2 separate regions of the Homo sapiens genome follow, and region 2 is linked to region 1. A link means that fine-mapping ties the variant in region 1 to the expression of a gene that starts in the linked region. Tissue or cell type: monocytes. Region 1 holds a variant in brackets; the other region holds the start of a gene. All regions are shown on one strand. Distances are between the middles of the regions.

What was found. PIP is the estimated chance that this variant, and not a neighbour inherited with it, causes the effect.
Region 2: it holds the start of SERAC1, and the variant in region 1 is fine-mapped to the expression of SERAC1 in monocytes (BLUEPRINT, PIP 0.95). The same link has a PIP of 0.9 or more in neutrophils.

Annotation. Positions count from the first base shown.
Region 1 is chr6:158,115,210-158,123,396 of GRCh38, reverse strand. It overlaps SERAC1 (serine active site containing 1), which reads left to right. Exons shown (of 17, transcript NM_032861.4): 11 at 2,822-2,972; 12 at 4,227-4,368; 13 at 5,576-5,670; 14 at 7,115-7,212. Among named protein-coding and RNA genes, the nearest start is that of SERAC1, 49 kb to the left of the region's middle. RefSeq lists a silencer at 3,094-3,294. The variant G/TG (reference allele first, on the strand shown) is at 4,779.
Region 2 is chr6:158,163,265-158,171,451 of GRCh38, reverse strand. SERAC1 (serine active site containing 1) reads left to right here and starts at 3,190. Exons shown (of 17, transcript NM_032861.4): 1 at 3,190-3,312. GTF2H5 (general transcription factor IIH subunit 5) reads right to left here and starts at 3,102. Exons shown (of 3, transcript NM_207118.3): 1 at 3,057-3,102; 2 at 914-982. The coding sequence starts at 948. RefSeq lists silencers at 3,103-3,282, 3,323-3,392.

The DNA of each region.
Region 1 (8,187 bases):
TTCTTGGTAATAGGAAAAGAGACACCTCTTTTATAAGCCCTCCAGCCATGTTTGGGCCTGTCTCCTTTCACAGTCTCAGGAATGTATACTTTTTTCTGGTCTCATGGTCAGCTGCTGCCTCATAGCTGGACCCTCTGATCACATACATTGGAGGAAGATGTGAAAAACATAATCTGCATCCCCTATAACATCCTGTCCTCCCTGTTATAGCTAAACTTCTGAAAGAGTTACCTACATATACCTTCTTTTTGCTCAGCCTTCATTACTTCTCAGTACTCCAATTTGAATTCTGCTAACTTGCCCTGTGTTTTTTTCTCTTTAGGCATCCTGTGTCTTTCCCTCTTTTTATATATTTTGTATCAATCTTAGTATCAGATCTGCAGATTTTTGCCTTCAGATTTACAAAAGTTGGAGCAACCTAAATGTCTGCCAATAGGAATGAATAGTGGTTAAACAATGGCGTACTCATGTGACGTAATACTATAGTTCAAAGGAATGAAGTTGATATATATAGAGAGCTCTCCAAGACATACTGCTGAAGTACAGACACAGAACAGTAGTATGATTCCATTTAGGTTTCAAAAAGTGCACATAGAGCTACATTTTTCTTTTTCTTTGAGACAGCGTCTCACTCTGTTGCCCAGGCTGGAGTGCAGTGGCGCTATCTTGGCTCCCTGCAACCTCCACCTCCCGGGTTCAAGTGATTCTCATGCCTCAGCCTTCTGAGTCGCTGGGATTACAGGCGCCCACCACCACACCCGGCTAATTTTGTAATTTTAGTAGAGATGGGGTTTCACATGTTGGCCAGGCTGGTCTTGAACTCCTGACCTCAAGTGATCTGCCTGCCTCAGCCTCCCAAAGTGTTGGGATTACAGGCATGAAACACCACGCCTGGCCCATTGTATGTGTTTAAATTATAGATATATGACTATATTTTTCAAAAGGGTGTCCACCAAACTTCTACCTTTCATTACTCTGAGGATGTAAATGGAGTTGGGAAATTATGGGAGTACTAAAGCAAGACTTTCATCATTAGATGCTACTTTTAGTTATTTCATTATTTTTTACAGTTAACATGTACAGACATGCATTGCTTAATAGTGGAGAAACATTCTGAGGAATGTATCGTTAGGCAGTTTTGTCACTGTGCAAACATCGCAAAGTATACTTACACAAACCTGGATGGTAGCACCTATTCCACACCTAGGCTGTATGGGACAGCCTATTGCTCCTAGGCTCCAAACCTATACAGCAGGTTACTGTACTGAACACTGTAGACAGTTGTAACACAATGGGAAATATTTGAGTATCTAAACACAGCTAAACATAGAAAAGGCACAGCAAAAATACTGTACTATAATCTTATGGGATCACCATAGTATTTGTGGTTCATTGTTGACTGAAACATTATTATGTGTTTTGCATGAGTGCATTCAGATGTTATATAATTTTAAAATGCTCAATGTTAAAGAAGTAAGTTTTCCAAAGGGCATTTGATATTTTTCAAAGGTGGAGTATCTCGGACATTGTGAACATATTTTGTCAACTGAAAAAAGCCAGAGATGGCTTGTACCATGCTTTTTCTTGTGACTTCATTAAAAATAAAGCCGTATTTTCATATATACCAATAACATACTTGTCTATCTCTATAGATATAATTTTTAAATATTCTTATTTTATTATTTTAAAATCTTTAACAGATTTTGAAGAGGAATCTTCTGATGTTATAAATTTGAATATTGTTAAGTACTGAGTCTGAAGCTTCTTTTAGGTTATTAAATGCTAGCTTCCCATCATCACAGTGACTCAACACTTTTGTCGTAAAGAGTGGGAGAAGGGCATGGGGACAGCTGTCGTGTATTGAGTGCCTGCTGGGCCTGGGCCCACGGTTTTCACATACATTAGTTTATTAAAACCTTCCTCTAGTTCAGTTGCTAAATAACTTGACTGAGGTTCCAGAGCAAGTAAGGAGGGAGCAGAAATGTGAGCCCAAGTCTAACTTCAAGGCCCATATTCTGCTTTATTTTAAATTAAATAAATTATATAAATAAATACATAGATTTTTCACCGTACTTCAGAAAATAGATATAGCGAAAAAGCTAAACATACGTTTTTTACAGAGCCCTCTTCTACCCTATCTCTCTCCTAAAAGGTAACGACTTTATAAGTTTAGTGTATAGATCTTTGTGTGTTTGTGTATGTGTGTGCACATGTACTTTTATATTTATGTATATAAAGTTTTAAAAACAAAAACATTAAAAAAAAGAAATCATAGCATAGATAGTATTATCCATGCATTTTCTGTTTGCCTCCCTTTAAAAAATGTTTTTTCCTTCCTGATCTCCAGATTCTACAAGAGTTTTGTGTCTCAAATTCATTGTTAAGAAATAGTTTCTTCATTTGTATGAAAGGGTATTACTGATTGCTGGTCAGGATGAAATAACTAGTATTAACCCACTGAGTTTCATAATTCTTGTTAAAAGCAAAACATCATGGTATTTTGTTCACTTTTGTGAACACCTCTATAACTGCTATGAACACCTCTATAATTGGTATTAGTGTTAGGCTTTCTAAATAAAGAAAATGGCTCTTCAACCCCTCTTTCCTTCTTTGAGGTCCCTTAAGGGGTATGTGGATGGTATTGTGCCACAGGTCTCAGAGGATCGTAGGGCAGAATGGGGTTGGAATAGTCGGACTTCTCCGCCAAGGACAGACACGCAAGGTTTGCCTTTCTCCCATCATATTCAGTTTGAAACCTCACTCTCTCTGTGGTCTGCGATGGATTCACATCAGTATTTAGGATATGTGTACTTTTCACCAGGCTGGGTTTCCATCATGGCAGAAGCAATGAAATCTCCCCACATTATGGAGTCCTCACACGCTGCCAGAATCCTGGCAAATCTAGACCGAGAAACTGTGCAAGAAAAATATCAGGATGGCGTATATGTGCTGCATCCCCAATATCGAACAAGGTAAGGAAGCAGAAGAGAGTTGCTTTGTCCCCTTTGGAAATGTGAAGCCTAGAGGCCTCAAATTTTTAACTTATTTCTGCATAATTCAGATAAGTTAAATAACTTATAAGTCAAATATCTTATTTACTAAAATAATTTGTCTATAGTAACCACAAAAGAATTGGAGGTTGTCATGAAAAGTATGTGAACTAGCTAAATTGTCATGGTTATTTTACAAAGGGCTTCCCTTCAGTTAGGTGGCATTCACATTTGATAATGCGTCACACTTAAACTTTGTAATACATATCTCCTTTGGTTCAAGGCATTTTCACTTAGATCTGAGTTAATAACTGATTTGGATTGTAGAAGTCAGCTGAATAGGAAGGAGATAAGACATTGTCTTATGTGGCAACCAAATTAGCCTGGGCCTAGAACTCAAGGGACTGGAGAAAGTTTATGCTAGTTATAAAAGGATGCATTAGAAAGAATAAGTTGTAATAAGTTTGACTCATGCCCCTTCTTAAGGTTATTTGTGGTCATTATATCTAGTTGTATAATTGCTAAGACAATAAATATAGAAGGGACCACACTGAAAAAATAACATATTTCTTGGTTTTCTTAGGGCACTTTACAAAAAGTACCTCAGAAAATAGCAAAAACTTTTAAATTAAAAAGTGGATTACCTGGTTAATTACAATTTGTAAATAAAATATTATGGTTATATATGTGCATTGCATAATTGTATGTGTACTGTAAATAGCTTGCAACTAACATACTATCTACAGTTTTTAATGCGTCATATGCAATGAGTGAATGTTACTTTGAAATCTCATTTTATAAGTATTAGTTTCCTTAACACATTTTTGAAAATCTCTTTTATATATACTGACTTTGAAACTGTTATTAGCACGTTCTTCTTTAATTTCTTAAATACTTTTATTGATTTGTAGAATATTCTCAAATGGAAGTCTTTAGAGGGTAATCTATGACATCTGTCAGTTGATTGATTGCTAAGCTCATTACAATTGATTGTGGTTGGTCTGCCTGACTAGAATAGTCTCCATTTTTAGAGAACAGTGAACATGCTTCATGTATGTCTTTGCCAAAGCTCCTTCTAGGTTTTCCCAGCAAACCTGTGCTTATAGAGCTTGCTTTAATTCAGTTTTATGTCACATAAGCCTGCTAAAGCACCATCCACAGAGAATGCTGTGTAGATTCTTACCAAAGCAGTAATGCATTTATTCTGCTTCTTTTTAAAACTCTCTCCCCTATTAGTCAGCCCATTAAAGCAGATGTCCTTTTTATTCATGGCCTTATGGGAGCAGCATTCAAAACATGGCGCCAGCAGGACAGTGAGCAGGCTGTAATTGAAAAACCTATGGAGGATGAAGACAGATATACGACGTGCTGGCCCAAGGTAAGGGAGCCACTGACTCTGGCCCTGGTTGCTGGGGCCCTGGTTGCTGGGGCCCTGATTGTGGCTTGCTTGTTTTTCTCTTTGTTCTGGGATTTTTTTCCCATGCAGTTCTTCTTTCCCTTAGGGAGATTTGTAGTATGTTTTGACAACAACTGGGCTTGTCACCCTATGTTGTATAATTTCCATTTGGGGTGCAGTGTATGACTCAAAAAATATTCTATTAAGTAAAAAATAGGGGCAAGAGCCAGTAATAGTTCACTTTTGTTGTAATATAATACAAAAATAACATAACAATACTTACATTTATAATAGTTACCTAATTCTATGACCTTAATAATTACAAAAATAGAAAGTCTTTGAAGAAGTAATTATACTTTGCATTTCTTTCCTTCTTTTTTTTTTTTTTTTTT[G/TG]AGATGAGGGTCTCATTTTGTCACCCAGACTGGAGTGCAGTGGTGCGATCCTAGCGCACTGCAGTCTCAACCTCCCAGGCTCAAACAGTCATTCCCCCTCAGCCTCCTGAGTAGCTGGGACCACAGGCACATGCCATCATGCCTGGCTAATTAATACTTTACATTTCTTTGATACTATTTCTCCCAAAGAACCTTAATTCTGGAATGAATTCATTGAATGGAATTTATCTAAAGCTCATTTAAAAGTGATGCTGCATATACGTGTGAATAGTTTTTAGGGCATTGTTCCATTACTACTTATTCTCCTTCACAAAGGCTTATCAAGTAGAAGAATGATTTGCACTTTCTGGTGGCACTGAAGTACAGAGATGATGATAGACCTAGGGTATACAGAGATAGAACTGTGATGATTATTATTAGTGTCTCTGAATTCTCAGATCCAAAATCTGTCAGACTATGCCATCTGTCCTGAGATTATAGCATTCTACTAAATTCTTTCAAAAAGCCAACTTGATCTAGACTTTAAAACAGGCCTTGCTTTTGGCTATAGCAGCTTAAAATGGAAAATATTCTCTTGAAACCTTCATTGGCCTTATGCTATAAATACTGGTACCACTTCGAGACCAGAGACTTGAAAAGATAGTGCTGGAATTGTTTTTACGGTACCTTCAAACCTTATTCCAGTGCTATCTTTAATTATAGTGCAAGAGGCCTTTAGTTATAAATTTGATTTACTAGGCAGTAATTGCAGTGGTGAAGATTCATACTTGTTCTCACATATGTTTTATTTTACTTAGACATGGTTAGCAAAAGACTGTCCTGCTCTCCGAATTATATCTGTGGAGTATGACACCAGCCTCAGCGACTGGAGAGCAAGGTGCCCTATGGAAAGGTAACAGAGGCGACTTTAGACCAGGAGGACAGGGAAGAATTCAGGCCGCAAGTTTAGGTCCTCTTGGATGGGAAGTGATTTTAATTTTTTGATGCCACAGACAGGATTTTCTTATGAAGAACAAACCTAATCTTTTTTGTCTTCCTTCTAGAAGGAGTTTGCTGTCAATAAGCAGTGGAATAGTAGAAGGCTTAGGTATATCACCAATGGTGGGCTCCTAACATGGTTTATTTACAACTGTTCTAATAGTGAAGGATCGTGGATTGTCTAGCAGTCTCCTTTTCTATCAGAAGTAAAAGTGATGTTTTTTTGTTCTTGTGTCCACAATCATACTGGCTAAAGGAAGCAAAGAGAAAGATGCTGAGAAATATCAGCTGCTATTTCCCTTGTATGTCATCTGTGCCAGTTGTATACATGGGAAGGAGTGCTGGATTTCAGAGTTACTGGACTGAGAGTAGCCGGATCCTACCTTTGATTTGCTGTGCAGTCTTAGACCAGTCAGTTAACTTTTCCGGGAAGCTTTGTCTACAGATTGACAGAGTTGGTCTAAATCAGTGTTATCAAACTGCTTTCTGAATGAACCTCCCGTAGGTGCCCAAGAAGGGTGTCAAGGTGAGCAGGCAAGACCCCAGGTCTCCCTCCCCATTTCACCCAGAGGAGCTCTGGAGAACCTTTATTTTGAAGAAATGTGTCTACAAATAAACAGTTTGAAACTACCAGACTAGATAGTTTTGAAGTTCCTCTTTAGTTTAAAAATTACTTATTTCGAATTCTGATTCTATTAGCATCCTGTTTATGCTAGTTATAAAAGCATGCATTGGAAGGAATAAGTGCTAATAAACTTGACTCATTCTAGTTTTTCTAAATAGCACCCTAGTATTTCTAAAGAATAAACCAAAATTATGAAAGCTTAATATTTTTGCAGCCTAACTACCAGTAGAGAGACCACAGTCTTTGGTGATACTTTCATTGTCAGGCCTTGGATGAAAAAGGACATCCATATCCTAAGTGTTGGAGGGCAGTTGCAGGGAGACCCACATTTGACCCGAAAAAATTGCCTGACACAGGTGCTCCAACAATGTTCATGCAGTAAATGAATGGCCTGTTCTGGGCTTAGATATTCCTAATTAGGCCAATGTTAATAAGTTACAAATAGAGAATTAACGATTTCAGGAATTGAGCAGAGAGATCCCAGGCGTGGTGGCTCATGCCTATAATCCTAGTGCTTTGGGAGGCCGAGGTGGGAGGATTCCTTGGGGCCAGGAGTTCAATAAGAGAGAATAGGGGTATTTTATATTAAGCAGAGAGAATGGGGGTATTTCTTACTCTAAATGTAGTATGTAGCATTGGTCCTGTAGACTAAAGTTCTTAACTCTAAAAATTAGACAGCAAATTGAGGGGATCGATAGCCTTGTGTCATGCCTGCTGTTTTTGTTTTGTTCAGAAAGTCCATTGCATTCAGAAGCAACGAACTTCTTAGGAAGCTCAGAGCTGCTGGTGTTGGGGATAGGCCAGTGGTTTGGATATCACATAGCATGGGAGGTAAGTGTGGCTTCAACTTTGTGAAGTGGCCATTGTGATGTTATTTTCAGCCACTGTGGCCAACCTAAAGTTATTTTATCTTTCCATTTTACTTAATAGCGGCTCCCTTACCCCCCCTGCTAAATTAATCTGTGTAGCTATGGCTAGGACTTTTAAAATTACTACTCTTGTTCCATGCTGTTCCTTTCTCTAGAAAAGGGCAACCTGTTACAAATCATCTAAGAGGGATATGGGTTTGACAGCGTAGTGCTTTCACATAGCGGTAATGAATAAACATGAGAAGCAGCCCGTTTCATATACACCCACCTCGTCAACATGCCTCAGCATTCTTGGGTGGCCCCAGGGGTGCCCCTTTATTCTTCCTGCTCCCCCTCACCATTGCAGTCTATGGTCGCTTTAGTGCCCACAGTCCCAGACTCTGGGTGCCTGCTCACACCAGGCCCAGAGCTGCTGAGGTACAGGTGTGATCAAGTGTCTGTTCTTGGGGTCCTAGTGGTTGCTTATGGAATGGCCTCCCCTGTGTGCGACTCCCCCAGTCCACTTTGAAATTTTCACCACCCACCTTGCAGAAGGCCTTTCTGCAGCCCGTGGCCTAGTTTATCTGATGAAGCACTCAGGATTGCCTCTGAGGTGGGGATTTTTGCTGAGACAAAGGTGGGTGTAGCCCTTCGTGTCCTCAAAGACCTACTGTCATCATCCTTTAGATCTTTGTGTTTCATTATCGGTTCCAAAGCCGGGGCAGGGGGATGGAAGAAAAGGTGCCTCCAGAGGAACAGTTCCCATGAAAGCTGTGTTCTCCATGGGGGACTGTGTGCTGTGGAATAGTAGCACTGTCCTGACAGTGTGGTCATCAGCGGTCTGCCATAGCAGGCTGAGAGACCAGCCACACCACGCTCATGTCCTGAGGGAGCTCCCAGCTGGGCATACCTCATGTTCCTGCACTGGGACAGTAGATCCTGTGAGACAAGGCTCTGC
Region 2 (8,187 bases), 48 kb before region 1:
TCCAAATCTGCACTATGCATAAGGTAGCCCACTAGTCAGGTCACTACAGAGTCCTTGAAACACGGTTAGTCTGTGAGATGTGCTGTAAAATTAAAATATCCATTCGACTTTGAAGATGAAGATTTTTTTGAAGACTTAGTATGTGTTCAAAGCATAGTGTTTTGCATAGACAGGGTTAAACAAAAGATATTAACTTCACCTGTTTCATTTTACGTTACTTTTAAGATGGCTAGAAAAAATGTAAGACTATATCTGTGGCTTGCATTAGATTTCTATTGGCTAGTGCTGTTCTAAATGTTGGCAGTGTCCTAGGGTTTGGTCTTGCTCCTCCTTAGCCTTGCCATCACAGTAAACAGTATCATTATCCATGCACTGGCTCATATTAGAGGCACCGAAAGTAGACAGTAGTATTTTCAGACAATGGGAGTGTCCACAGAGCAGGGTTCCCGGGGTTCCTGGACACTGGATTGCTTTGAGGAACTCAACTCTGCCCATTTATGGTTTTTAGTTTCTCCTCTGGAATGTACCTAAAGGAATTTAAGAAACCTCCATTTGGCTCTGTTGTTTTTCTCTTTTTTAAAGTCCACAGTTTGTAATGGTAAAGACTTAAGCAAGTTCCTGAACTCTTTCAGGCCCTAAAATTCATCATGTTTGAGGAGAATGCAAGCACTGTTTCTCTAAAGACGACTCATCTAACAAATATGCTGCCTCTGATCATGCCAGTTCCATCAATTCAACAGAGGGACTGAAATCTGGCACCAGGAGCTTTGCAACAAAATCTGTGCCACTTGTTAAAAGCGAAAGACTTGATTTCATCCATATCTTAAAAACAACAGGGTTTTAGAAAAGACATACATACAAGTCAAGATTCAATATTTAAACTTAAAACTCATGCAGTATCAAAACTACTAACCATTCTATAAGCACTCCTTTCAAGACGTTGACCATGTTTTCTCAGAAGGTTCAGATGACCTGAAGAATGCTAATAAAAAGAGTAAGGTAACATTAAATTAAAAATCATTAACTTTCATATACTTTGGGGATCTGCCTCTGAAACGAGGCAAAATAATTAAATGTCAATATTTAACAGTTAAGTCTATGAAAGACAGTTAACATTAAGAAAAAAGACATTCTGATTTTTTAACAAAATTAAAATGAGTCTACTTGGAATATTAATGCCACATCTTACTCGCCAGCCAATTCTACCCAAGGTCAATTAGCCCTAATAGAAGCAAGAGGCCTAACTCTACACCAGTGTGCCCAACCCAGGTATAAACCGTCCATTATTCAAAGGATTTCTTTTCCCATTCAGGAGAATGACAAAGGGTAAGATCCTGGGAGACAGGAATCAAAGAAGATAGTTCTGAAAGGTGCTTCAAAAATTATACAGTGAGCCCAACCACCTCCTTTTAGTTTATATTTTATTTTACTGAGACAGGGTCTGGCTCTGCCGCCCAGGCTGTAGTGCAGTGGCGCGATCTCTGCTCCCTGCAACCTCTTGCCTCCTGGGTTCAAGCGATCCTCCCACCTCAGCCTCCCGAGTAGCTGGGACTACAGGCATGCACTACTAAGCCCAGCTAATGTACTGTGTTGTATCGTGTGTGTGTGTGTGTATATATATACACACTTTTATATATAATATATAATATACAATATATAATATATAATATACAATATATTATATATAATATACAATATATTATATAATATATAATATACAATATATTATATAATATATAATATACAATATATTATATAATATATATTATATATTATATAATATACAATATATTATATGTAATATACAATATATGTAATATACAATATATTATATGTAATATACAATATATGTAATATACAATATATTATATATAATATACAATATATTATATATAATATACAGTATATTATATATAATATACTGTATATTATATATAATATACAATATATTATATAATATACAATATATTATATATAATATACAATATAATATATATAATATATAATATATATAATATACAATATATTATATATAATATATAATATACAATATAATATTATATATAATATATAATATACATATTATATATATGTATTATATATAATATACGTATTATATATAATATACATAATATACATATTATATATTATATATAAAATAAATATATATTATATATAAAATACATATATAATATATATATATGTATATATACACTTCGAGACAGAGTCTCACTCTGTCGCCCAGGCTGGAGCGCAGTGTCGTGATGTCGGCTCACTGCAACCTCTGCCTCCCGGGCTCAAGCGATTCTCCTGCCTCAGCCTCCCAAGCAGCGGGGACTACAGGCGCCCGCCACCACGCCAGGCCAAATTTTGTATTTTTAGTAGAGGCAGGGTTTCACCATGTTGGCCAGGCTGGTCTCGAACTCCTGATCTCAAATGATCCACCTACCTCGGCCTCCCAAAGTGCTGGGACAACAGGTGTGAGCCACCGCGCCAGGCCAATTTATTGTATTTTTAGTGGAGACGGGGTTTCACCATGTTGGCCAGGCTGGTCTCGAACTCCTGGCCTCAAGTGATTTGCCCGCCTCGGCCTCCCAATGTGCTGGGATTGCAGGCGTGAGCCACCGCGCCCGGCCTCAGCCACCTCATTTTACATATGAGGAGACCAAAGGAAGAGATTAAGCCGTAGTTCCTGGCCAAAGGAAAAAAGTACAAGCCAGATCTCCAGATCTTGTGCCCCTTCACTAAATAAATCACGTCCCGTGCGGACCTAGGCTGGAAACAAACCACTCAGCGTACGCCCATTTAATTAACTTCCACTTACACCTGGGCGCAGGGCGAGCCCTAGCCCCACAGGAAACCCACGATTAAACGAGGGGGGGACTGCCGTGCGGCCCCGCCAGGAAGGGCCCGGAGAGAGTGGGGGACACCGCCCTGTGCCCCCAGCACCCGGTGGACAGGCTTCTGGGGCTTTTCTCTTCCTCTCCCCTTTCTTTGGGACCCCTCAGTGTTCCCACACCCCACTTTCCCCAGCCGCTCGGACGCTCGCCACACACCTCGGCCCACAGATGCAGAAGCGCCTCGGCGTTGCCGGCAGAGTGCGCCTGCGCCGATACGCCATCGCGCTAGGGACGCTATTGTGGGTGGAGCCAGCCGGCGGGAGGCGGGCCCAGAGCGGGCCGAGGGGGCGGGGTCACGAGCCGCCAGCCGCCGGGTGGAGGGTCCCGGCCGGGAGCCGCGGAAAGAGTAGGGCTCCCCAGACAACGGGGTCCGACGAGCAGTTGGGCACGGGCTGAGTCCGCCTGCCGGCAGGTAGGACGTGAAGGCAGGGGTGGTGTGGGGGCGGACGGGGGCGTCGGCGCAGCTGGGCGCGGTGGGGAGCGGAGAATGGGGAGGGCAGGGACCGGGCACGGCCGAGCACCGCCGTCTGGCGCGCGGACCGGACCGACCAGCTGACGCTCGGCTGGGCGTGAGGGCCTCTCTCTCTGGTGGTCGCGAGCCTGACTCGTCTTTCCCTGTCGCTGCCTTTCTCTGGCTGCTGTCGAGGCCTTGGGGAGTGCACCTGCCGGTCCGTCTTCCCGGGCTCGGTAGTCACGGAGAGATGAGGAGGAGGAGGAAAGGGCCTCACCAGTCACTTCTGAGCCTTGCAGACCACCGCTTCCTGCTCCCTCTCTAACCCCAGAGATGGAATAGATTGAATGCTGAGAGAGCTCTAAACTCGGCAACGGTCATTTTAAAGTGAAAGACCCCAGAAGGTTCTAAAGTTACTCCCTTTCCCCAAGTCTGTTCTGTAAGTCTAAAGGAACACTGTCATTATTTTTACTAGTTGAGATATGAGATTCTTGTTTTCTGTTCCTTAGGTTAAATTGTACTTCCCGCATTAAGCTCATGCTGCCTTTTTTTTTTTTTTTTTTGAGATGGAGTCTCGGTCTGTCTGCCAGGCTGGAGTGCAGTGGCGCGATCTGGGCTCACTGCAACCTCCGTCTCCTGGGTTCAAGCAATTATCCTGCCTCATTCTCCCTAGTAACTGGGATTACAGGCGTGCGCTACCACGCCCGGCTGATTTTCGTATTTTTAGTAGACACGGGGTTTGTCCATGTTGGCCAGGCTGGTCTGGAATTCCTGACATCAGGTGATCCCCCGCCTCGGCCTCCCAGAGTGCTGCGATTACAGGTGTGAGCCACCGCGCCCGACCTCATGCTGCCTTTTTTTTTTTTTTTTTTTTTTTAACATCGTGTGTGTTCATGTGATCGCTAAGGAACCCAGCTCTTCCATTTAGTTCCCTCTTTCTATCCCTCAAATCTTTTCCAACTGGTGATTTCCATATTGTTGCACTCTCTTTAAAATAAAAAAATTGCCTCCAAGTCTTCTTCTTCCCAAGTATCTTTTATTTGCTTTTTTTCATCTTGCATACATTCTCTTCCTTGATCTCATCAGTTCCATTTTTGTGCACTTGATGTGTGTCAGCTATTATTCTAGACGCTTGGGATACAATGGTGAACAGGTAACTAATTTTGGTGGGGGCAGAGAGACTCTGAAATCAGTTAAGGAATAAGTACCATTTGGTGATGTGATAAAGAGTGACTAGAGGGGTTATTTTGGCCAGGGGGATGTCAGAAATGGCCTTAATTTCTGCATTTAAAAACTTCTGTATACCAGTAACAATTAACTAGGAGTTTTAATAATAAAAAGACACTATTCATAATGGCATTCAAAACTAAAGGTACCTAGAAATAGATGAACCTAAAGCTGTGTAGTCCTTTAGACAGAAAATTGTAAGGCTCTGTTGGAACACAAAAGATGACCCAAGTAAATGGTGAGATATACCGTATTAATAGATGGAAAGACTCAACAAAAAGATGTCAGTTTTCCTCAGTTCTACGAATTCAGTGTAATGCCAATTAAAATCACCATATTGTTTTATGGAATTTGCCATGCTGAACTTAAAATTTATATGGAAAGGCAAGGGACCAAGAATAGTGAAGTCAATTTTGAAGAAGAAGAAAAATAAGGTCTCTCCCTATCAGATACCAAAGCTTAATATAAAGTTGTAATTATTAAGATGGTATGATATTGATTCAGGGATAGAGAATTAGATTCATGGAACAGAATAGAGACACTAGAAACATACCTATTTACATACGGGAGTTTAGTATACCACTAAGTGGTATTGCAAAGCAGGGGGAAAGCATAGACTATTCAATAAAGGATGATGAAATATATGGTTGCTGAGATATCTGGCATTGTTATGGTATACAGACAGGATTAGATTCTTACTTTCAAACTATTGACAACAGTTTCCAGATAAAGACCTAAATGTGAATGGCACAGCTGCAAGGTATTTGGAAAGGAATATAAGAGACCATTGTCTCTAGGAAAGATTTCTTTTTTGTTTGCTTTGTTAAATCTTGTTACACATAAGATTTATCATGTTAACCATGTTGAGTTGTTGAGTTCAGTGACATTCACATTGTGCAACCAGCACTACTATCTATCTCCAGAACTTTTTTTTTAAATGTCTCTGAGAAGGATTTCTTAAGTTACAAAAAGCACCTTTGAGGTGTCATTTTATTACTCCAAATGAGAGATGATGTTGGCTTGAACTAGACAAGAGTGTAGCAGTGAATACAGAGAAAAATGGATGGATTTGGGGGTATGTTTTGATGGTAGAGAAGAGCAACTCTGCGTGGTTTAGATGTAGAGTAAGGGGAAAACAAGGAATCAAGGGCAACATCTGTTTTTTTGCTTCAGTTAAGAGGTAGATCATTTACCATTTACAATCAAAAAGCATTGACCATTTGATGGATAGTGATGGAGAAGATTTGTGGAGGAAGAGTTTGGGGAGAAAAAGTAAAGAATTCTCTTTTGGACAGTTGAGTATGAAAGGCCTGTTGGACATCCAAGTGGAAATGTTCCAATAGCTGTTGGATAGATAGGTCAGGAAAGATCGTAGCTAGAGGTACTCTGAGATCACTGGCATATAGATATTAAGAACTGGGCCGGGCACGGTGGCTCACGCTTGTAATCCCAGCACTTTGGTAGGCCGAGGCGGGTGGATCACGAGGTCAGGAGATTGAGACCATCCTGGATAACACGGTGAAACCCCGTCTGTACTAAAAATACAAAAAAATAGCTGGGCGTGGTGGCAGCCGCCTGTAGTCCCAGCTACTTGGGAGGCTGAGGCAGGAGAATGGTGTGAACCTGGGAGACGGAGTTTGCAGTGAGCCGAGATCGCGCCACTGCACTCCAGCCTGGGTGACAGAGTGAGAGACTCTGTCTCAAAAAAAAAACCAAAAAACAAAAAACTGTGGTGTGTTGGAATCAGCTGTGTTACACAGAAAACAAGATAATACTGGCTTAAATATGTATGTAATTGCATAGGTAGGCAGCCATGCTTTTATGGAAGCAGCTCTGTAATCATCAGGGACTCGGATTCTTCTATCTGGCTGCTCTACCGTCCTTAATAAGATGCTTGGTGTTAAGATGACTGCTTTAATTCAAACTGTCAGTTGCTCATTCTAGCAAGAGGGAGGAGGGAAGGAGGAAGAAAGGCACATACCCTTCTTTTTAAGGACACTTTTCAGAAATTGCACATGACACATCCACTCATATTTCATTAGCCAATTCTTTGTAAGTGCCCATAGTTAACTAGAAAGAAAGAAAGGTGATGTAGTCTTTTTTGTTGTCTGTGTACCTAGCTACAACTCACGTTTTATTAATCAGAATGAAAGCATGAAATGATGTTTCACTCTGGCTTCCTCCACCAGGGCAATGAAGCTACTGATATGAAGATCCCAGTGACCTCCATATTGTTAAACTTAATGGAATTTTCAAATATTTGTTTTATTTTTAAATTATAATCTCTTCCCTTTTATTTTCTGTGTCTTTCTTAGTCTCAAAATTTCTCCGTTCTCTACTTAAAATCAGTGTTTCAGATTTTATGTAATCACCGTCATAATATATATATATATTTTTTTGAGATGGAGTCTCGCTCTGTCGCCCAGGCTGGACTGCCGTGGCGCAATCTTTGCTCACTGCAAGCTGCACCTCCTAGTTTCACGCCATTCTCCTGCCTCAGCCTCCTGAGTAGCTGGGACTACAGGTGCCCGCCACCACACCCAGCTAATTTTTTGAATTTTTAGTAGAGATGGGGTTTCACCGGGTTATCCAGGCTGGTCTCGATCTCCTGACCTCGTGATCCTCCTGCCTCGGCCTCCCAAAGTGCTGGGATTACAGGCGTGAGCCACCGTGCCTGGCCCCATAATCTTAAAGGTGCTTTTAAATAGAAATTGACAAGCAGACTCTAAAATTATGTGGAAGTACCAAGGACCTAGAATAGTCCGTCTTGAAAAGGAAGGACACAGCTGGAAAATTTATACTACTAGCTTCAAGACTTACTTTAAAAACTACAGTAATCTGCCTGGTGCGGTGGCTCACACCTGTAATCCCAGCACTTTGGGAAGCCGAGGCGGGTGGATCACGAGGTCAAGAGTTCAAGACCAGCCTGGCCAAGATGGTGAAACCCTGTCTCTACCCAAAATACAAAAATTAGCCAGGTATGGTGGTGGGCATCTGTAATCCCAGCTACTTGGGAGGCTGAGGCAGGAGAATTGCTTGAACCTGGGAGGCGGAGGTTGCAGTGAGCTGAGATCAGGCCACTGCACTCCATCCTGCCTGGGCGACAGAGTGAGACTCTGTCAAAAAGAAAACAAAAAACAACAAAAAACCTACATAATCTAAACAGTGCAGTGTTTATATAAGGATAGATAAATAGATCGATGGAGTGGAATAGGTCCATACATATGTATTCCATTAGGGTTTTTTGTTTGTTTGTTTTGAGATGTGGGTCTCACTGTATTGCCTAGGCTGGTGTTGGGCTCCTGAGCTCCAGCAGTCCTCCTGCCTCAGGCTTCTGAGTAGCTGGTATTACAGGCATGTGCCGCAGATATAGTCAGTTGATTTGTGGTCTCAAGCAATCATCCCACCTTGGCCTCCCAAATCACTGGGATTATAGGCATGAGCCACCACACTTGGCCCTATGGTATACTTTTTATTGTTATTTTATAGTGTATTCATCTATTCCCTCTACTTATAAAAAAATAAAATTTACTGTAAAACAAGTTATGCTGGCAGCAACCTCATATATCTCGTGTAAAGGAAAGTTTAGAAGTTACATGTCAGCTTTTT